Homo sapiens: one gene and its partners. The protein of the gene in region 1 interacts with the protein of each later gene in a biochemical or structural test. Each region holds a gene or a part of one and is shown in the gene's direction. Other genes may lie near its edges.

Evidence for each region. Proteins that work in one complex are often made in the same cells at the same time.
Region 2: the proteins of CDK1 (region 1) and GADD45A form a complex in vitro, tested with the Homo sapiens proteins (5 studies listed by BioGRID).
Region 3: of the proteins of CDK1 (region 1) and WEE1, one has a biochemical effect on the other in vitro, tested with the Homo sapiens proteins (5 studies listed by BioGRID, with this or other methods).

What each region holds. Positions count from the first base shown.
Region 1 is NC_000010.11:60,774,026-60,781,477, forward strand, and holds the start of CDK1 (cyclin-dependent kinase 1), read left to right. Parts: upstream 1-4,452; 5' UTR 4,453-4,545; exon of another isoform or gene 4,546-4,643; intron 4,644-6,115; 5' UTR 6,116-6,140; coding exon 6,141-6,177; intron 6,178-7,452. UniProt on the Homo sapiens protein: Plays a key role in the control of the eukaryotic cell cycle by modulating the centrosome cycle as well as mitotic onset; promotes G2-M transition via association with multiple interphase cyclins.
Region 2 is NC_000001.11:67,680,853-67,688,208, forward strand, and holds the start of GADD45A (growth arrest and DNA damage-inducible protein GADD45 alpha), read left to right. Parts: upstream 1-4,348; 5' UTR 4,349-4,642; coding exon 4,643-4,686; intron 4,687-5,172; coding exon 5,173-5,274; intron 5,275-5,497; coding exon 5,498-5,735; intron 5,736-6,808; coding exon 6,809-6,922; 3' UTR 6,923-7,356. UniProt on the Homo sapiens protein: In T-cells, functions as a regulator of p38 MAPKs by inhibiting p88 phosphorylation and activity.
Region 3 is NC_000011.10:9,576,646-9,583,677, forward strand, and holds part of WEE1 (wee1-like protein kinase), read left to right. Parts: coding exon 1-14; intron 15-496; coding exon 497-618; intron 619-1,382; exon of another isoform or gene 1,383-1,486; intron 1,487-4,886; coding exon 4,887-5,033; intron 5,034-7,032. UniProt on the Homo sapiens protein: Acts as a negative regulator of entry into mitosis (G2 to M transition) by protecting the nucleus from cytoplasmically activated cyclin B1-complexed CDK1 before the onset of mitosis by mediating phosphorylation of CDK1 on 'Tyr-15'.

The sequences.
Region 1 (7,452 bases):
TCACTGCCTTGTTCACATTTTTTTGTTCAAGTCCAACGTCTAATCCAAAACTTTTAGCATGACCTTGAACATTACCTTCAAGGTATAGATATTATTTAACTACCTAGCCTAATGTTTATGACCCTTGCTGAGCACCCAGATTCTGTTTATGTTCAGCGTACTGAATTAATTTCAGTCTACAAACTTGCATTGTTCTTTCTTGTCAATGGATCAAGCTCTCCACCTTCATTTGTCTTCTTGGCAAACTCTTTTTATTCCTTAAGACTCAGTTCAGTCAACTTTGCTATGAAGCCTTGCCTGATGCCCTCTCCACTATGTTCTGCACACAGCAGTCTTCACCATATTGCATTGTAAACATTTGCACCCCACCTAGGTGGAAGATCCACAGCTACTCACCTGTTATCCTTGATCCTCATTAGTCCCAAGGTTGACATATGAATCTCTTCTCCCTACACCATGCCCAGTTTCTAAAATTCCAATGAGAGATTAAGGTGGGTTGACATGTATGCATTTAAAGTACAACTACCAACAGGTTTAAAGTGATCTCTTTCTCTTTTTGTGGGGCGAGAATGAAGATAGGGGGCATGGAGGTTGTATATGACAAACTTTTATTATCTGTATTTTACACTTTGGATTATTTCTTAAAATTTACAGAAAAATCACATTACTTTTATAATCAGAAAAACACCCAACTCTGTCATAGCAACGATAGTTCAGTATTTTCACTTGTGGTGAAAAGACCTGAATCTATATATCTTGTATTTTCTGTCACTTTCCTTTCTGAATTAACATGAAAAAGGATAAATCTTCTTCTTTTGCATACATTTTCCGGCAACTTTTAAATTTTTTTTTTCTTTTTATATATTTGTCTGTATAGAGACAGGGTCTTACTATGTTGCCAAGCTGGCCTCAAACTCCTGGCCTCAAGGGATCCTCCACCTTGGCCTCCCAAAGTGCTGGGATTACAGGTGTGAGCCACTGTGCCTGGCCAATTTTTACCATTTTTATCCAGTAGCAATGGAGGCCTTGGCAAGACTGATTCATTCATTCATTTATTTATTCGTTCATTTTTGGGCTAGGGTAGTACATTCACGTGGCTCAATATTCAAAAGATACAAAACTCTCCTTTCCACCTCTGTACCAGGTCACTCTTGTATTCCACAGAGGGCACATTTTTATTAGTTTCTTCCACCTCCTTCCCGAAGTGTATTTTCTTTTCTTTTCTTTTTTTTTTAGAAGGAGTCTCGCTCTATCACTAGGCTGGAGTGCAGTGGCGCCATCTCGGCTCACTGCAACATTCGCCTCCAGGGTTCAAGCGATTCTCCTGACTCAGCCTCCCGAGTAGCTGGGATTACAGGCATGTGCCACCACGCCCAGCTAATTTTTGTATTTTTAGTAGAGATGGGTTTTCACCACGTTGGCCAGGATGGTCTCGATCTCCTGACAACGTGATCCACCCGCCTTGGCCTCCCAGAGTGCTGAGATTATAGGCGTGAGACACCGCGCCCGGCCCGGAGGTGTATTTTCAAGCAAATGTTCTCACATTTTTCTTATCTAAAAAAAACACTTGTCTTGACCTGGGCTGCCATAACAAAATGCCATAGACTACGTGCCTTAAACAACAAAATTTTATTTTCACTCAGTTCTGGAGGCTTGGTGTGCAAGTTCAGAGGGCGGGCAACATCAGGTTCTGGCAAGGGCTGACTTCCTCACTGACAGGTGCCTTCTCATTCTAACCTCACATGAGAGCAACCAAGCTCTTCAGCGTCTCTTCTTATAAGAGCACTAATTCCATCACGAGGGCCCCACCCTCATGTCCTCATCTAAACCTAATTACCTCCCAAAGCCTCATCTCCAAACACCATCCCAGTGGGGTGAGGCCTTCAACGTATGAATTAGCGGGGTGGGGGGACAACAAACATTCAGACCATAGAAATACGTAAATATAAGAAACAAAACCAAAAAGACTTATGTGCAATACCAACTGATCTTTTCTTTTCCTTCCAAAATGGAGTTTACCAAAATACAAATATGAAGTTTTTCAGAGCACATACCTTCCCCTGCTCTCCTCTGCAGTTTTTTTTTTTTTAATACCACCTCTAGGGTAGTTTTCCTAAAATATGGTTCCAAGGCTGTGTGTACCTCTCCTGCTCAGATCCTTTGGAACAGTGTTCAGCGCTCATCAGGATTCTGACTGTAAACTCCCTTCTCTGACTTTAACATCACAGGATGCAGTACTCCCTACATTCTACCATGGGGGGCACCCTGAATTACCTGGGTTGACTTTCTGGCCTCTGTGCTCTACTTATACAATTTCCTCTGTATGGAAGGCCCACTCCAGAATCCTTTCCCCAGCCTTTGTTCAAATGTCACTTCTGCTAGCATTAGCAGTTTCCTCCTCTGGGTTCTCACATTGCCCTGTAACATAAGTTACAAGGTAAGTACCAGAAGAGAATTCCCAATTATCATCCTGCTCCCCTACCCTCAACACCTCCAGCGGTAACTGTATCTTATTCATTTTTGTGTCTATGAAGCACAGTGTTGCACTTTGGAGATACTACATAGAAGTTGGCCCAAAGGGTAATAAACTGTATTTGCCAAGATGATAGCATGGATTTACAATAACCTCTGAAACTTTATAAAGAAAGATGATTGAGTTAAATTGATACACCTAGCATCACAGCTGTGGAAGCTTGTGGTCTTCTTTATGTTAAAGGTAAAATGGATATAATGAATTAGTTGCCATTTTTAGATGATATAGAAGTTGAATTCCTCTTAAGCCTCTCAAAGAGAAAGACATATTAAAATTCATTAAAACCAGTACCATAAACTGCACAGAACAGCCTGGTTCCCTAGAGCACTTCTCTGGGGCAGTGAGTTTTCATTTAAAAAATGAAGTTTGGATTTTAAACATAAGTTTTAAAAGTGATTAGGCTCCAGCAGGAGTTCTTAAATTCCTACCTACACCATGACTCCCAAATGCTCTGCCTCTGTTGCCTAGGAACAAAAATTGTCAAGGTTGAGCCAGATGCAATGTATAACACCAGATGATAGATGCAGCTCATTGTGTTAAAAGGTGTTAAACACTTAAGTGCATGTGATATACTCTATATCACAAGGGTAAGGAAGTTCCATTCCATATCCTGATTTGGGTCTTCTAATACATACTTGTAGTGGATGTGGTAATCAGTCTTTGTTCTATGTCCCATTAGGATCAATGCAACCAGAAATCCTTAAAATGGATTTTTATTATGTCTAGCTCTGTTTTACTGTTCTATTTGTTTATTTTAAAAAGATTTTAGAATGGTGTTTAGGTTGGGCTGGTGGCTCACGCCTGTAATCTCAGCACTTTGGGAGGCCAAGGCAGGAGGATTGCTGGAGCCTAGGAGTTGGAGACCAGCTAGGGCAACATAAGGAGACATTGTCTCCGCAAACAAACAGAAAAAAAAAAAGTAAGAAAGAAAGAGAGAAAGAAGGAAAGAACAAGAAAAAGGAAAAAAAAATTAACTGCAGTAAGTGCAGAAATCTCTCTCAAGGATATGATGGATGGCAATGAAGACAGAGTTTTTGACACTGGATTATTTAAAGCATAATTTAAGCCTCTTTCTCTCCCCTCATAGAATTGTGAATTTTTGTGTTTTAATTATATTTAAGCCAGGCGTGGTGGCGAGTGCCTGTAGTCGCAGCTGCGCTGGAGGCTGAGGCCGATTGCTTGAGCCCAGGATTTGGAGGCCAGCATGCGCAACATAATGAGACCCAGTCTCTAAATGCATGCCTCTCTCTATATATTTAAAATTCTGATGTGAAAATATTTTAAAATTTAATACATTTCAAATGTTTTTAATTGTATAATAAACAAAATGTAAATAATAAAATAATTTAATATTAAATTCAAAAATGAGGTAGAAACAAAGCACAGCGATATAAATAATAAATTTTCCTTTACATTTTTGAGGCGGTCTTTTGAGTTTTCCATTTCCTTCTTAAGGTCACTGAAATGTGCTCCTTGGAGCCAGCCCGCAAATCACGCATTTAGAAAAACATAACTATACACTCCTAACCCTAAGTATTAGAAGTGAAAGTAATGGAATCTCGATGTAAACACAATATCACTTTTTTGATGAGCTATTTTGAGTATAATAAATTTGAACTGTGCCAATGCTGGGAGAAAAAATTTAAAAGAAGAACGGAGCGAACAGTAGCTTCCTGCTCCGCTGACTAGAAACAGTAGGACGACACTCTCCCGACTGGAGGAGAGCGCTTGCGCTCGCACTCAGTTGGCGCCCGCCCTCCTGCTTTTTCTCTAGCCGCCCTTTCCTCTTTCTTTCGCGCTCTAGCCACCCGGGAAGGCCTGCCCAGCGTAGCTGGGCTCTGATTGGCTGCTTTGAAAGTCTACGGGCTACCCGATTGGTGAATCCGGGGCCCTTTAGCGCGGTGAGTTTGAAACTGCTCGCACTTGGCTTCAAAGCTGGCTCTTGGAAATTGAGCGGAGAGCGACGCGGTTGTTGTAGCTGCCGCTGCGGCCGCCGCGGAATAATAAGCCGGGTACAGTGGCTGGGGTCAGGGTCGTGTCTAGGGGACGGCCGAGGGCCTCGGAGGGCGAGTATTGAGGAACGGGGTCCTCTAAGAAGGCCGGACTGGAGGTCAGGGATCTGCGCGGGGCCCGGCTGGGCCTCGGGGGGCGGTGGGCAGGGCCTTCGCCTGGGTCTGGCCGTGTGAGCCACACTGGGCTGGCTTTAGAGGGAGGCTATGGGAGCCCAGCCTGGCGGGGTTAGGCGGCGTGGGGGTGGGGGTTCGGGGCTGCAGTCATGAGTCGAGGTCGGCTGTTCTCAGGAACTGCCTGAAGAGGCTTTCGGGTCTTGATTGAAGCAAAATCCGCTCCCCCACGCTGAGCGCCTGCGGAGTAGCAGGCTCTTTCCTGGGCCCGGCCCCTGCGCGCCCTGCCATCCCGCCTCGGGGGTGGGAAAGTGGGACCGCACCTGGGCCAGGTACAGGCGCGGGTCCCTAGAGCCAGGCCGCCCTGAGAAACCGATCCTGGAACTCGTGGGCCTTCTTGGGCTTGCTCTGCCCACGGCCCCGGCCCACCTGGAGCTGTTAAGAACAGTCAGCCCAGGCACTTAACTCTCATGAGCAGTGTAGTGCAGTTTTTTTCATTTAAAAAGATACATCTCTGCTTCTTTCTGGATTGATTTTTCTTTGAAGATGAATGTGAGAAATAGAACTTAAAGGTCTATTCTGAGTGTGCTTTATAAATGATTTTATCATCAGTGATGGGTGTTAGAAAAATCTAGGTAATTATGCCTGGAGTTCTGACGTTTCATTGGCAAACTTCAGAGGAAGTCTTGAACTTCTGGTTGTCAGCTTTTTTTTTTAACCCATTCATTGTGATTCAAGTATACCGTTTTTCTGCTTAGTCCTTGACATTGTTTAGGTTATAATTAGAATTTTATCTGTGGAATTGCACTTTTCATTCTTTTGTTTTACGGTGCTTAAGTGATATTTCCTACTCTTGGAAAAAGTACCTTGAAAGTCTTGAGCATGTTTGTCTGTGACCTCAGCAAGCAGAGGAAAAAGATTAAAATTGTCACGTGGGCAACTGTAAACACTTAAAATGTTTTTGTCGTTTTAAACAAAATTTTCCTAATGAACAGTCTGAACACATTTTAGTTCTGTCCTCATAACTTTAAAAAATAATGTTTTGAATAAAATTAGGAGTATCATAAAGCGGTATAAATTTGTTGAAATATTTGGGTATAACTTTGGCACACGCAGGTACTACTTTAAAGTGTCACAAAAAGGGAACATAATTCTGGTTTTTGTTTGGAAAGAATAGACAAGTTGATACCTGAATTTGAGGGTTATTTTGATTGGAAGAAGCTAAATACTACACTAGTATAGAATATACACGTTTCCAATGTCTCAGGAGTCAAGAAGGATGGAAAGTTATTGTAGGAGTCCTTACCCTTGTAAATATTGTTTGAATGTAATTAATATTTATGGAATACTTATGCTGCAGTAGGCACTGTGGAAAATGCTTTACATATAGTGTTTCATTAATGCTTAAAACTACTCGAGTTAGTGGCATGTAATTAAGTCAGTTTTTCCTTCACTTTAGGATCTACCATACCCATTGACTAACTATGGAAGATTATACCAAAATAGAGAAAATTGGAGAAGGTGAGTGGTTTTAGTAAAATAAATTTTATGGAATGATTTAACAATGCTACAACTTCTGTAATATGAACACATTTAAATATTTATTAAAATTCAACCATTAAGTTGTCTTGTAGTACCAGTGTGCATTAACATATGTTCTTTACTTAATAAACGCAAATTTGCTCACATTTCAAGAGAATTGAAATTACCGAATCCCTAATGACCGTTCGCCTCACCCCCATAGTCTTACAGTCTTCTGATACTAAACACTTATAGTAGTACTTGTATTTTGAAGACACTATTGATAACTTGCATGTGTGTTGAGGGGCAGAGGTTAGGGCTGCAGAATTATGCTAACTTCATAATATATTTTTAGTTTTAGTCTCTTTCAATTGTTTTTAGGATGATAAATATTTTTATCCAGACTTTATAGACTGGTTACAATAATTGACTTAATCTAATTTAAATAAAATTTCTATTTAGTTACCCTAAGTATAAATGACCTGTCATATAGACATGTTTAAGCTATTCTAAAATTATAACTTATGTATATAATCCTTCCCTTTCTGTGGTACTTGAAGGAATGTTTAGATCTATATATGGCACAAATGAGGGGTATATCCCTTCGCCTGTTCCTCGACTCCAGCAGAACATTCTCGATTCTCCAGGTACAAAATAATTTGCTAATAGAATCCAGTTTATATAGGTTCTGCCAGAAGAAAATTCCCAACTATATTTTTAATGTGATCAAAGACCCCACTTGACAAGAAATAGTGAAAAACAAGGGGGAATACTGGAGGGAATTTAGTGGAATAGGAGTGACAAGTTAGTGTGGTGTTCGATTGGAGGTGTGTGTGTGTATACATATATATATATATTTTTTTTTTAAATCACTTAAATACCTCATACCCATTCTACTAAACAAATTTTGCTGCTGAATTAAAAATATGTGATTAGTATGTCTAATGCTGTGTAGTGTGTTTCTTAAATTCCCAGAGAATTTGTGTTGGTTTTAGTTTGGCATAAAAAGAGACCTTCTTAAAGTATAAATATATTTTTCTTTAAGATGATAGAACTCCAAACATACAGGAGACTGCAGATTTGACTTCTGAGAAAAGTACTTTAATTGCTACTAGAAATAGGAGCAGTTAAAAGAATGTAATTTTAAATTTAATCCATTACATACATGTAAGTCATAAGACTTCCATTCTTTATTTCTAGCAGTGTGACAGTGGTAAACCCTCTTAACTTTTCTGGATCTCAGTTTCTGCCTCTGCAAATGGTGATAATTGGACT
Region 2 (7,356 bases), on another chromosome or scaffold:
ACAAATTGGCTGGGCGCAGTGGCTCACACCTGTAATCCCAGCACTTTGCGAGGCCAAGGTGGGAGGACTGCTTAAGCCCAGGCGTTTGAGACCAGCCTGGGCAACAAAGCAAGACCCCGTTTCTTTGGAAAATTTTAAAATTAGGCTGGTGTGATGGCATGTGCCTATAGTCCCAGGTACTCAGGAGGCTGAGGTAGGAAGATCGCTTGAGCCTGGGAGTTCAAGACTGCAGTGAGCTATGACAGTGCCACTGCACTCTAGTCTGGATGACAGAGGATGACCCTGTCTCAAAAAAGAAAAAAAAAAAAGCAAACTCACAAATCTGTTCAAGGTGCAAAAACAACCTACCAGTGGCCAATCACCAACTCAGACCACCTACTTCCCTCACCAGTGATTAGGCTACAAAGCAGAGACTCTCAGAACATTCCTCCCATGATAGAAGCCTTCTGATACGCACCGACAGAGAGGTGAGGGGTTAGGGGGTGTTGATCTTGAAGAATGTTCTAGTTAGTCTCTTCATCTGACTTCTCCACTGGCTGGGCCTTGCTTGGCTGGTGAAATGTGAGCAGCTGATGGCAGCACAAGGTGGCCAGCCCAAAGCTCAAATTAACACTATGATTACTACCATGATTCTTAATAGCTGAAGAGAATTTCCACAGGATAAGGATTTATTGAACACACAAAAAAGATGGCATTAAGAATATTATACTAGTTTTTTGTTGTTGTTTTTGTTTTTGTTTTGAGACGGAGTTTCAATCTTGTCACCCAGGCTGGAGTGCAATGGCACCATCTCGGCTCACTGCAACCTCCACCTCCAGATTCAAGTGATTCTCCTGCCTCAGCCTCCCGAGTAGCTAAGATTACAGGTGCCTGCCACCGCGCCTGGCTAATTTTTGTATTTTTAGTAGAGCTGGGGTTTCACCATGTTAGCCAGGCTGGTCTCAAACTCCTTAGCCAGGCTGGTCTCAAGCTCCTGACCTCAGGTGATCCACCCGCCTTGGCCTCCCAAAGTGCTGGGATTACAGGTGTGAGCCACCACACCTGGCCCCAACTAATTTTTGTATTTTTAGTAGAGGTGGGGTTTTACCATGTTGGCCAGGCTGGTTTTGAACTCCTGACCTCAGGTGATCCGACCTCCTCAGCCTCTCAAAGTGCTGGGATTACAGGCGTGAGCTACTGCACCTGACCAGGAACCTTATGATTTTTAACAAGAAAAAATAATACAATACAATTCTAGGTAGGTGGAAAATACATCCATCATAGTTGAACTGATCTTCTCCTTTGATGTGGACAATGATCTAATACTGAAATAACAAGCATTATATTTCTTTCAGATGTTAAAGCATTGATTGTTTTTTGAAAGAAAGAAAGAATAATTCTGCATTATGGAACCAGTAGTAGGAATGTATGTAGGATAAGCATGACTAAAATATCAAAAAGATCTTTAATATGCAAAGCAAGTAGCAGTGCTAAAATAATTGAACAATTCTTGAGTATATATTTCCATATGATTTCTAAATATAATCATTTGGTATCTTTACAAACATTACTACAAGAGCATTCTACTCCTGTGTACTTGGCAGTTGTCAGAGTTACCTGTAGTGGTTTTTAAAATGACATCACATATTGGAGTTATCACACTGATTATAAAGAAATATATATATATATATAATATTGATATAGGAAAATTTCTCTGATTTACCATTGACTATCAATGTCCTCCAGGACTAATAAACAGTTAATGATAAATCAACTATGTCCATTCTAATGTGTAACTACAATCTAACTGTGTAGCTAAATGCAGTTTTTACTTCCAGTCATGAGGCCCAACTTTGAAGATAATCACTGAGAAAACATTCTAGGTATACTCAGCAATCAGGCAAAATGATGTAACGTATCTGAGTCAGAAAGTATGACAAATGAATATTTTTGCATACTGGAAGCCCAAGCTTATCTCAGAGAAAATCCCCAAAATACTTGGGCAAATAACTTTCTGATGAAGTCAAATATAGCATGCAGTATAATTTTTGAGTGGAGGACTAAGCCTATAATAAGAAGTAACCATTTGATATCACATTTTTACTGGATATAGTCGACTTGGGTGGGGCACTTTAGGACTGTGGTTCATTTGAATTGGTGTAAACAATACACCGGTTCTACTGTCCTACAGCCTCCATTCAGATGACTGAAGTCATGGGACTTTCAGCATAGCTAGCTGATGACAGTGCATACTATTTTGTCCCAAAATCCAGTTCAAGCATGGACATACCAATAAGAGCCTAAGCTCTTTAAAGGCAAAGGACCAGGAATTGTACAGTTCTTGGTATAGAAGAAGACAGGCAAAAGTGTTTTTGAACTAACGTTAAATGTGCAATATGTTAGAATTCATGCAATGCACAGGACTGCAGGATTCTGATATCTTATTTAACTCTCAAATTCTATTCAACTCAATAAACCTTGACTGTGCTTCTACTAAATGCAGGTATTGTACTAGGAGCTGAGGACACCAAACTGATGAAGTCCTTGCTGTCAAGAAACTCACATGATTCCCTAATTCTTTGTCAGCTTGCTGTGATCACATTTTCTTCCCAAGAACCTCTAAGAAATGCCTAGTGGATAGAACCTTGGAGTTCCACGGAACATATTAACAATCGCCAAATGATGACTCAGGCTAGATTGTGTAATTCAGGTTTTGTCTGCAAAACTGAAAATGCTTCGGTAACCTACCTAAATTTCAATGTTGAGGAATTCTTTAAGAAAGACATCAAATGTTAAGATTTAAGGCATAGATATGAGATACATAGTCATGCTTAGGTGAATTATGCACTGACCATGACCATTTCTTTACTCAAATGTTGTCCATGGCTGACAACACAGTGAAAAAATGAGTGCAAAATGACAACTCAAATAAATGAACCAGAAAACCTATCACTTTTCTTTTCCACCAAATTAAGATCAAGAGAGCTGGAGAATATTTTGTCTAGAGTGATAAAAACATAAGGGTGCAAAACTTCCAGGTACCTTTGCAGAAATTACTTCTGTGACCTTTGGCTGTACAGCAACCTTAATAATGCAAGCACTGTTTTGAATGCAAGCATGTGGGAGCCATTTTCACCACTTTTGATGACTTCAGTAGGTTTAAGAAATGTTTTTGCTTTTATTGCATAAACCATAAAACAAAGGAAGGGACTTTTGAACTACTCAGTGAGAGTCTATATATTAAAGTTTGTTTTTCAAAAATGTGTAACTACCATTTGCAGTTTTAAAGGTCTGCTTTCCACCTACAAGTTGCCATTATCTCAAAGGTGAAATTTTAGCATATGACTAAAAACTTCCTATAGTTACAGCTTCATGATTCAGCATCTAACATCAATAATTCACAGTGAGATCATAGGAGGCTCTCTGTGGAAGGTAACGACATACATACGTTAGGAAAGGAAGCTTAGGGCATATCGAGAGCATTTTGAATTTAGACTTGTGGGCTGTGTGGGTGTCAGATGGTTGTCTCTCAGCTGGTGGGCGTCCAGAAGGATCCTTGTTTGGGCAAGGCTCTTTGAGAAAGGAGAATCTGGGTTGCCAGGGATTCCCACATGTGGTCACCAGCTCCCCACGCAGACCAGCTCACGATTTCCCAGTTACACCGGGCAGGTGGGAAACCGTTCTGCTTTCTGTGGAAAAGATTCTAACTTGGTTCCCTGCCATCCCTGAATACAAACGGGTTGGTTTTTCTTTTTTCAGCTTCCAACCCTTGCAGCTTTCCAAAAATAAATCAAACCAGCCATCAGGGCACCGAAATAATACTACTGCTAATAAGCAGCTTCGCCTAGACTTAGATAAACAACACTTCTGAGGTAAACTTTGCCCCGGAGGTCTGGAGACACTTTTTTAATGTAACCTGCTTACTAATAATTACTAGACTTCAGTGCATTAACCCTGGAAATAGATTTTAATAGCCACCCCTTAAAACAAAAGACATGAAAAGATAATAAGAAAAAAGTGCCGCAACTATTATAGAAAAACACTTGGCAGCCTGCTTCAGCCCAAGCTGAGGCCACCTCTAGCCTCTGCTAAAGCCCCCCACTCCCAATGGTCCCCGCCAACCGGATAAGAGTGCGCGCGGGACCCGCCTTCCCCTCTCGGCACCGCCCCCGCCCCCGCCCCCTCGGCTCGCCTCCCGCGTGGCTCCTCCCTTTTCCGCTCCTCTCAACCTGACTCCAGGAGCTGGGGTCAAATTGCTGGAGCAGGCTGATTTGCATAGCCCAATGGCCAAGCTGCATGCAAATGAGGCGGAAGGTGGTTGGCTGAGGGTTGGCAGGATAACCCCGGAGAGCGGGGCCCTTTGTCCTCCAGTGGCTGGTAGGCAGTGGCTGGGAGGCAGCGGCCCAATTAGTGTCGTGCGGCCCGTGGCGAGGCGAGGTCCGGGGAGCGAGCGAGCAAGCAAGGCGGGAGGGGTGGCCGGAGCTGCGGCGGCTGGCACAGGAGGAGGAGCCCGGGCGGGCGAGGGGCGGCCGGAGAGCGCCAGGGCCTGAGCTGCCGGAGCGGCGCCTGTGAGTGAGTGCAGAAAGCAGGCGCCCGCGCGCTAGCCGTGGCAGGAGCAGCCCGCACGCCGCGCTCTCTCCCTGGGCGACCTGCAGTTTGCAATATGACTTTGGAGGAATTCTCGGCTGGAGAGCAGAAGACCGAAAGGTGAGTCGGCCTGCGGACTCTTCCGGCCCGAACTTCTCTTACCTACCCCGCGCTCCCCGGTGCAGCCGGGCTGTGGAAGGCTTGCAGGGGAGGAAGCTAAAAAGTTTGCACAGGGCAACTCCCGCCCTTGCTCCCTCGGGACTCTCCGTGGAGCTCCCACGGACTGAAAGAGCGTGCCCCCCAACCCGAACGAGCCCCGCCGGGGCCTTTGCAAAGGGCAGCAGTGGCCGTCGCTGCCCGTGCGGCTCCCGTGGCTGGCAGCCTGTGGCAGGGGCACTCTCGGGACTTCTCACGGGACGCCCGGTCCTTGGGCGTGCAGGGGTCATGGGGGGTGACGGGGCCGCGGGAGCGCCGGGTTTTCGTAGAGCCCAGGTGCGCGGTGGTGCTTGCATTCGAGAGGGAGGGGCGTGGTACCGGACGAGGGGGGCGGCGATGGCCCCGAGGGCACCGGGGCTGACGGGACCCCTCGCCCTTGCCCGCGTGTAGGATGGATAAGGTGGGGGATGCCCTGGAGGAAGTGCTCAGCAAAGCCCTGAGTCAGCGCACGATCACTGTCGGGGTGTACGAAGCGGCCAAGCTGCTCAACGTGTAAGTGGGGCCCTTGCGCGTCCCCCATGGCACCCCTTCCCGCCCCAGCCCGGGAGGTCGCCTTGGCTGGGCGCCCCTCGCCCGGCCGCGCCACTTCCTGTCGCTTTTCTGCCTGTCTCGGAAGGGAGGGGGCGAGCGGGCCGGGCGGCGACCCCCAGGGACCCGGGCAGTGGTTGAGGGCGCCCGCGCTTCTGCGCTCACTGGCCCCGCCCGCTGCCCCCAGCGACCCCGATAACGTGGTGTTGTGCCTGCTGGCGGCGGACGAGGACGACGACAGAGATGTGGCTCTGCAGATCCACTTCACCCTGATCCAGGCGTTTTGCTGCGAGAACGACATCAACATCCTGCGCGTCAGCAACCCGGGCCGGCTGGCGGAGCTCCTGCTCTTGGAGACCGACGCTGGCCCCGCGGCGAGCGAGGGCGCCGAGCAGCCCCCGGACCTGCACTGCGTGCTGGTGACGGTAAGGGACTGGGGGACTGCAGCCTGCAGGGTAGAGCCCCGGAAGGACGGGAGTCAGGGCTGGGTTGCCTGATTGTGGATCTGTGGTAGGTGGGGGTCAGGAGGGTGGCTGCCTTTGTCCGACTAGAGTGTGGCTGGACTTTCAGCCGAGATGTGCTAGTTTCATCACCAGGATTTTCTGTGGTACAGAACATGTCTAAGCATGCTGGGGACTGCCAGCAGCGGAAGAGATCCCTGTGAGTCAGCAGTCAGCCCAGCTACTCCCTACCTACATCTGCACTGCCTCCCGTGACTAATTCCTTTAGCAGGGCAGATTAGATAAAGCCAAATGAATTCCTGGCTCACCCCTCATTAAGGAGTCAGCTTCATTCTCTGCCAGTCAGAGCTAAAAATAGAAATTGTGTAGGAGACAAACCTTGTTAATTCCCTAGAAATACATTAAGAGGATAGAGTGGAATTTTTTTTCTCTGCAATCTTGCATTTTTTTAATGGCTCTTTTTTTTTTTCCTGATAAAAACCTTTGGTAGGTAGGGAAGTTATGTTTTCAGGGGTAAATGTGCTACTTTTGTCTTCTAAATTTTGCTCTTTTTTGACTGGTCTAGTCAAGTGACAGCCCGATTATTTTGCTACTCCTTAAAAGTACTATTCTGTCTCTTGGAGTATGGTTGATGGCAATTCCAGTTAACTGCTGTGCAGCTCTCATCTCATTGTGCACACAGCATGGAAATCTTTCTCAAAACTGTTTCACTCAGGTCAGGGTAACAAGTTTGGTAGAGCAAACCGGTGAATGATACTCTCATGCAAAACTGAACAGATATGCAAACATATGTATGTGGTTCAGCTTGGGTTGCATGGGTTCAGACTTTGCAATGTGTAGTTTAATAGGTAATTACCCTTAACGCTTTTGCAGGGAACCCAACTACCTTGAAGAAACTTTAATTTTTTTGTGCTTCTAATTTGTCTCCATGTCACATAGCCAAAATATAGAATGTTCAAGTGTTTTCTCCTCAAAAGTATAATTACTAGAATATACTGGTTTTTAAAATAAGTTTATTTTTATAAATTTGTTTCCAGAATCCACATTCATCTCAATGGAAGGATCCTGCCTTAAGTCAACTTATTTGTTTTTGCCGGGAAAGTCGCTACATGGATCAATGGGTTCCAGTGATTAATCTCCCTGAACGGTGATGGCATCTGAATGAAAATAACTGAACCAAATTGCACTGAAGTTTTTGAAATACCTTTGTAGTTACTCAAGCAGTTACTCCCTACACTGATGCAAGGATTACAGAAACTGATGCCAAGGGGCTGAGTGAGTTCAACTACATGTTCTGGGGGCCCGGAGATAGATGACTTTGCAGATGGAAAGAGGTGAAAATGAAGAAGGAAGCTGTGTTGAAACAGAAAAATAAGTCAAAAGGAACAAAAATTACAAAGAACCATGCAGGAAGGAAAACTATGTATTAATTTAGAATGGTTGAGTTACATTAAAATAAACCAAATATGTTAAAGTTTAAGTGTGCAGCCATAGTTTGGGTATTTTTGGTTTATATGCCCTCAAGTAAAAGAAAAGCCGAAAGGGTTAATCATATTTGAAAACCATATTTTATTGTATTTTGATG
Region 3 (7,032 bases), on another chromosome or scaffold:
GGCTCTGTTGATGAGTATGTATTAAACATTTTGTCTTTTGCTCTTTTGTCCCCTATGGTGTTACTAACATTAAGGTTTCAGCTGGTCAAACACTGAATTCCATCTCTAACTTTTGAGAAGCTGTAATGATTTAATCAGGTCCTTTTCACTTAATACCATCAGTTCTTATTGGACTTGTTGAATAATATGAGTCTGATTTTGGAACCTAACTTAAATTTCTTATTTCTAGTCAGCATCCATGAATTCACAGTAAAATGGAGTTTATTCTTACCTGAGTCCTAGGGCAAGCAACATTTCTTCTTTCTGATAAATCTTTAATGGAATCTGCCTTTGGAAAAATCTCTTACAAGTCTAAACCCCTTCTCTCTTAAGCAAGTTGCTTTTTAGCATAACAATAGATACCAAAAATTTATTGTATGAAGTTTCAGATAAATTAATTCAGTTTAAGCTTGAGTGAAAATTATTTACCATTCTATTAATCTCAAATTTCTTCTAGGCAGAACGCTTTGAGAGAAGTATATGCTCATGCAGTGCTTGGACAGCATTCTCATGTAGTTCGATATTTCTCTGCGTGGGCAGAAGATGATCATATGCTTATACAGAATGAATATTGTAATGGTGAGTGATGTAATGGTTTTCTTGTGAGCTTGAGAAAATGAACATCGAGGAAATATTTATGGTTATCTAAAATCTTGCTCTATTTCTGTCACTTTTATCTTTTATAAATTTAAAGATCAGAGACCTAACATAAATTTCAAGTACAAGGTTAAAAACCTTGTCCTTTCTGAAGCACCTTGTACATATCTCAGTAGTAGAACTTCGCATACTATTTATGTGCTTGTCGCTCCAACTGAGCTTTTTGACAAGACTATGGCCTCGACACATATATTTTGGTGTCCGTAGTACCTAGCGTAGTGTGTGAAGCATATAGTATTATGAAGTGTTAAGTTGAATAGATTCTTCCTGTGTCTGGTCTTTGATTTCCATTTCATGTGAGGTGCTGCTAAAACTGATGTTTGTTAGTCACTGAGTCTCTGTTGATCTAAATTCAGCTGTTTCTTTAAGCATTCTGTAGTCCGGCCCTACTCCCACGTATCCAACCTAGTCTACCCTAGAATCCACTAACGCTTTATTATGTTACATTCTTTTAGTTCTCTAGCTTGTCGTCTCTCCCTCCTCTCCCCTAAGGATGAAACAAAACAGGCATGTATAGATTCAAGTTTGGATGTCTTGTATAGCTTTCAGTTTCGGTAAGTCCTTCAAGGGCCGACTTATGTCTCTCCTTTTCTATTAAAAACCTTTACCAAAGTCTTGGTCAGAATTCTGGTTCTTATGGACGTCTGTCATTATTATATACCAAATCTTTTATGGATTATTTCTCAACACTTTTGTAGTTTATAAGTGTGATGATTGGGTTTTCATACTCAAGTGTGAAATGTGCCTCCCTCAAACCTTGTTACGACATCAGCACATTACCAGTCTGAAATGAAAAATATCTGTAGTTTGTTTCTATTTCTGTATATCTTCTGTGAATATAGACAATTTAGAGTTTAGTGAACACTTGAGAGGAGATAACAAAATTTATTTTTGTTGATTCTTATTATTCCTTAAATAAACAAGACCAGTTATCTCATAACTTGTAAATAAATAAGTGGTGTAGGTATGGATTCAGGTTCCCCATATTTAAAAACAGTGAACAAAACAGAAGTAAAAGATCCATTTTTCAAACCTGATTCCTCATTATTTAATAAAGTTCTCCACACTTGAAAGAACTTGAGTGTCTAGTATACAGCCTTGCTGCTAGTTTTTTTCACACAGCTCTTGAAATGTTTCTATTCATACCATCAAAATATTTATGTAACTATCACAACCTTATGGATTATTCTATTTCTTAACCTTCATTTTTCAGGTATTGCATTTAACCTAGAACAACTTGACCACAATGTCGTCTCCATTTGATATTTGTTAGACACCATCTCTTTTCAGTTTCCTTCTTTCTCTTTCTCACCTTCTTGATGTGAATAATTCTCTTAACAGAATAGTTCATTAGTAGTCCAGGAATGTCAAATATGTAGCAACCTACCAATACATGGTTGTGTAAATCAGATGATTCTGAGAAAACTCACGTGGGCCTGGGAGATAGGGAACTGAGTGAGTAGTCTTGCTACCCTCTCAGATTACAAAAACCTTGTCCTGTAATGTTAGATTATAAAATAATCTATTGAAAATAAGTTTTTATTTATTTATTTATTTATTTATTTATTTATTTATTTATTTTTGAGACAGAGCCTTGCTCTGTCGCCCAGGCTGGAGTGCAGTGGCGCAATCTCTGCTCACTGCAACCTTTGCCTCCAGGGTTCAAGCGATTCTCCTGCCTCAGCCTTTTGAGTAGCTGGGATTACAGATGCGCGCCACCACTCCCAGCTAATTTTTGTATTTTTAGTAGAGATGGGGTTTCACCATGTTGGCCAGGCTGGTCTTGAACCCTGACCTCGTGATCCACCTGCCTCGGCCTCTTAAAGCAATATAAAACTCTTGAAGAAAATAAATAGTCCTGCATGAAACAGGACTGCCTCTTTGTGTGGCTATTTGTCCTACTTAGATAAAAGAAAATACGACTATCTGGATGCATTTGTGATCTCTTTTGTTTCCTGTGTCCACCGTTCCTCTCTCCACATAAAGCTTTGAATATACCAATAGGGCTCATCTTCACATCTTTTCCACAGTTTCACTGGAAAAGGATTCTGATATTTATTTGTACATGAGTAACTGATTCCCTTTATTGTGATTTAATTTCCTTATTATCTTATTCATTTGCATTATAAGCCTTTTATCTTGGTTTGGTGATAGATTGGAATTAACCTGTATAAACAAGTGTAGAAAAATATTGATGGATAGGGAAAGAGAACCTGAAATGTCAGAACCTGTTTTGCTCTCATCACCTTTCTTGCCCTTCTAGCAATAAGAGAAGAAATGGGCACAGCTATGGTTGCTGGACCTGCTAAAAAAGAGAATTAGCCATATTCTTTCTTAGCACATTTGATCTAGGACTTAGCCTATCTTGTCTGACAGCGTTATTGGTTTGCTCCCTTCTAGAGCACTCTTTCCCCTCCCTCAGTTCAAGATTTGTACAAGTAAGGAGAACATACTTAAGACTAAGATACCGAGATGTATAATTTATTTTAAAAACACATTTGACGTTATGTTATTTTCTTATTTAAATTATAGGACCTCCTTTTCTGACTAATACATCATTGACCTTCCTAATTTTAGTACCCAGCTCTGATTTTTTTATTCCTAAGCCTTAAACAGGAGATATTTAAAACAATTCCTCATTGCCTTTGAGATGAAATACAAACTTTAAAAGTTTGAAAAAATATAAACAAATTAACTGATTGATTTAACTAATTCTATAAAAGCAGGTTATGGTCTCATTCATAGTAAGAGTAGTATAAATTATAACTATACTAAAATACTGTCTTTTTACCTATAACATTTATAGACTTGTCAAGGGTATGGGGAAACAGGTATGCTCATGCATTGACAATGGGCATATATATTGGTACAGCCTTCTCTGTGGAGAAGAGTGTGTGTGTGTGTGTGTGTGTGTGTGTAAAACACACCATCTCCATATATTACAAATGTGCATACCCTTTAACCCAGCAATTTGGCTTCTAGGTGATATACTAAATGTACGTGAAATTACCAATGTACAAGGTTATTTATTAGGCCATAGTATGTAATAGCAAAGGCTTGGAAATAATTTTAAAATGTCCATCAAATGAGGGACTGATAAATGCATTTCTTTCTTTCTTTCTTTTTTTTTTTTTTTTTCGGGGGACTGAGTCTCACTCTGCCACCAGGCTGGAGTGCAATGGCCCGATATCGGCTCACTGCAACCTCCGCCTCCCAGGTTCAAGCAATTCTCCTGCCTTCTGAGTAGCTGGGATTACAGGTGCACGCCACCACACCCAGCTAATTTTTGTATTTTTAGTAGAAACGGGGTTTCGCCATGTTGGCCTGCATGGTCTCGAACTCCTGACCTCGTGATCTACCTGCCTCGGCCTCCCATAGTGCTGGGATTACAGGCGTGAGCCACTGTGCCCAGCCAATAAATGCATTTCTACTCAATTATACAATGGAATTCTATAAAGACAAGAAGAAATGGGTTGTCTTTGTATATTGGTATAGAGTGATCTTTAAGATAATGAACATATGCTGTTATTTATGCAAAAAGTTGAAAAGAATACATAGACCTGAGCTGGGCGTGGTGGCAGTGCCTGTAGTCCCAGCTGCTTGGGAGTCTGAAGCAGGGAATTTGAATTTGGGTTTGGGAATTCTAGGCTGTAGTGCCGATCTATGTTGAGCATCTATGCCGATCTATGCCGATCTAAGTTGAGCATCAGTATGGTGACCTCTGTGGAGTGGGGCACCACCAGGTTGCCTAAAGAGGGGTAAACTGGCCTAAGTTGGAAACAGCACAAGTCAAAACTCCTATGCTGATAAGTAGTGGGATCAAGCCTGTGAATAGCCACTGGATTCCAGCTGGGCAACATAGATAGACCCTGTCTCTTATAAATTAAAAACAAAAACAAACAAAAAAAAAGCCAACCTGATAATACTGGTTTACTCTGAGAAAGAAACAGGTGGATTGCTGAGGTGTATGATTGAGAGAGAGACTTTACATTTTATTTTGTACCCATGCAAATGTATTACCTATTGAAAAAACAATAAAATTTTGATTTCACAAGCAGGTTGAAGGGAGAAGGTCCTATAAAATAACACTTTCTTGGTTGAGATTGGTTGGTTGAGACTCATTTGGTAAAGATGGAAGAAAGAAAATATTTCAGAAAGAAGAAAATGCTAATATTTTCTATCTTTGTTAGGTGGAAGTTTAGCTGATGCTATAAGTGAAAACTACAGAATCATGAGTTACTTTAAAGAAGCAGAGTTGAAGGATCTCCTTTTGCAAGTTGGCCGAGGCTTGAGGTATATTCATTCAATGTCTTTGGTTCACATGGATATAAAACCTAGTAAGTATTGCAGATCTTCTGACCTGTGTTCTTTGGGGTTATAGAGAATAAATTACTTCATTATGACAACATTGAAAAAATATATATCTTCTGTTTTCTCATTGTTAGTTTTAAAAGGCCTTAGATCCACTTACCAATATTGTTTTATGATTTCTATTCATCTCTTCCCTTGTTAATCCCCAAAATTTGAGATAAACTTTTTTGAGACAGTGTCTCATTCTGTGGCCCAGGCCGGAATGCAGTGGCACCATCTCCGCTCACTGCAACTTCCCCATCCCGTGCTCAAGCAGTCATCCCACCTCAGTCTTCCGAGTAGCCGGGACTATAGGCATGTGCCACCATGCCCAGATAAATTCATTTTTATTAAAAGCCAGAAATTTTTGCTGCATCTTACAGGAACTACAGGTGGGATACTAATGAGGGCACTAAAAATCTGTGTTTAAAGCCCCACTCTTCCACTAGGCCAGACCATATTAAAATTTCCCCAGTTGACTCAAGTCCTTAATAGTTGATTTGTTCAAATTAGTATCTACTTAAGGATCATGCATTGCATCTGGTTATATCAGTTTTTCTTTTTCAGAACCCATCCTCTGCTTTGTAAAAATAATATACACTTATCTTGCAAGCTATCCCTTTTTCTGGATTTGACTAGTTGCTTCTTGTATCATTTAGCTTGTTCCTTTTTCTCCTATATTTCCTATAAATTGGAAGTTATAACTAAGGATTATGGATTCAAGTTAAGCATCTTAGGCTAGATGAATTTAGTGAGGTTTTATTAATCTTTGGAAACCTGTTGATTTGTGAGAATTTCAGTCATTTTGTACAACTTTATGAGTTATATGCTAGAATTTCATATGCGTATGTTAACAAGTCACTAAAGTTTCTTCTTTCTTTTTTTCTTTTTTTGAGATGGAGTCTCGCTCTGTTGCCCAGGCTGGAGTGCAGTGGCACAGTCTCAGCTCTCTGTAACCTCTGCCTCCCACGTTCAAGCGATTCTCCTGCCTCCGCCTCCCGAGTAGCTGGGATTACAGGCATACACCACCATGCCCGGCTAATTTTTTGTATTTTTAGTAGAGACGGGTTTCACCATGTTGGCTAAGCTGGTCTTGAACTATTGACCTTGTGATCTGCCCACCATGGCCTCCCAAAGTGCTGAGATTACAGGCGTAAGCCACCGTGCCCAGCATGTTTTTTATTTTCAAAAGACAAAAATATATTTGGATTTAAGGCAGTAAATGTGAATTCTTAAGGAATAGCTGTACTCATATAAAGTGTTAGACAAATATAATAGACCCTTATAAGGTATAAAAGTTGAAAATATTAAGGGATGTGAAGTTTAAAAATCTTCAAATTTAGACCAGGTGCAGTGGCTGACGCCTGTAATCCCAGCACTCTGGCAGGCCAAGGCAGGCAGATCACGAGGCAGGAGTTCGAGACCAGCCTGGCCAATATGATGAAACCCCGTCTCTACTAAAATTACAAAAATTAGCCAGGTGTAGTGGTGCGCACCTATAGTCCTAGTTACTCGGGAGGCTGAGGCAGAAGAATTGCTTGAACCCGGGAGGCGGAGGTTGCAGTGAGCCGAGATTGCACCATTGCACTCCATCCTAGGCAACAAAGTGAGACTCCGTCTCAAAAAAAGAAAAAAAAAATTCGCCGGGCGTGGTGCCTCACGCCTGTAATCCCAGCACTTTGGGAGGCTGAGGCGGGTGGATTGCCTAAGCTTGGGAGTTCACCACCAGCCTGGACAACACGGTGAAACCTCGTCTCTACTAAAATACAAAAAATTAGCTGGGTGTGGTGGCAGGCACCTGTAGTCCCAGCTACTCTGGAGGCTGAGGCAGGAGAATTGCTTGAACCCGGGAGGAGGAAGTTGAAGTGAGCTGAGATCGCACCACTGCACTCCAGCCTGGGCGACAGAGCGAGACTGTCTCAAAAAAAAAAAAAAAAAACCTTCCAATTTACAAATACCATCACAAAATAAGTTGTCCTATAAAGA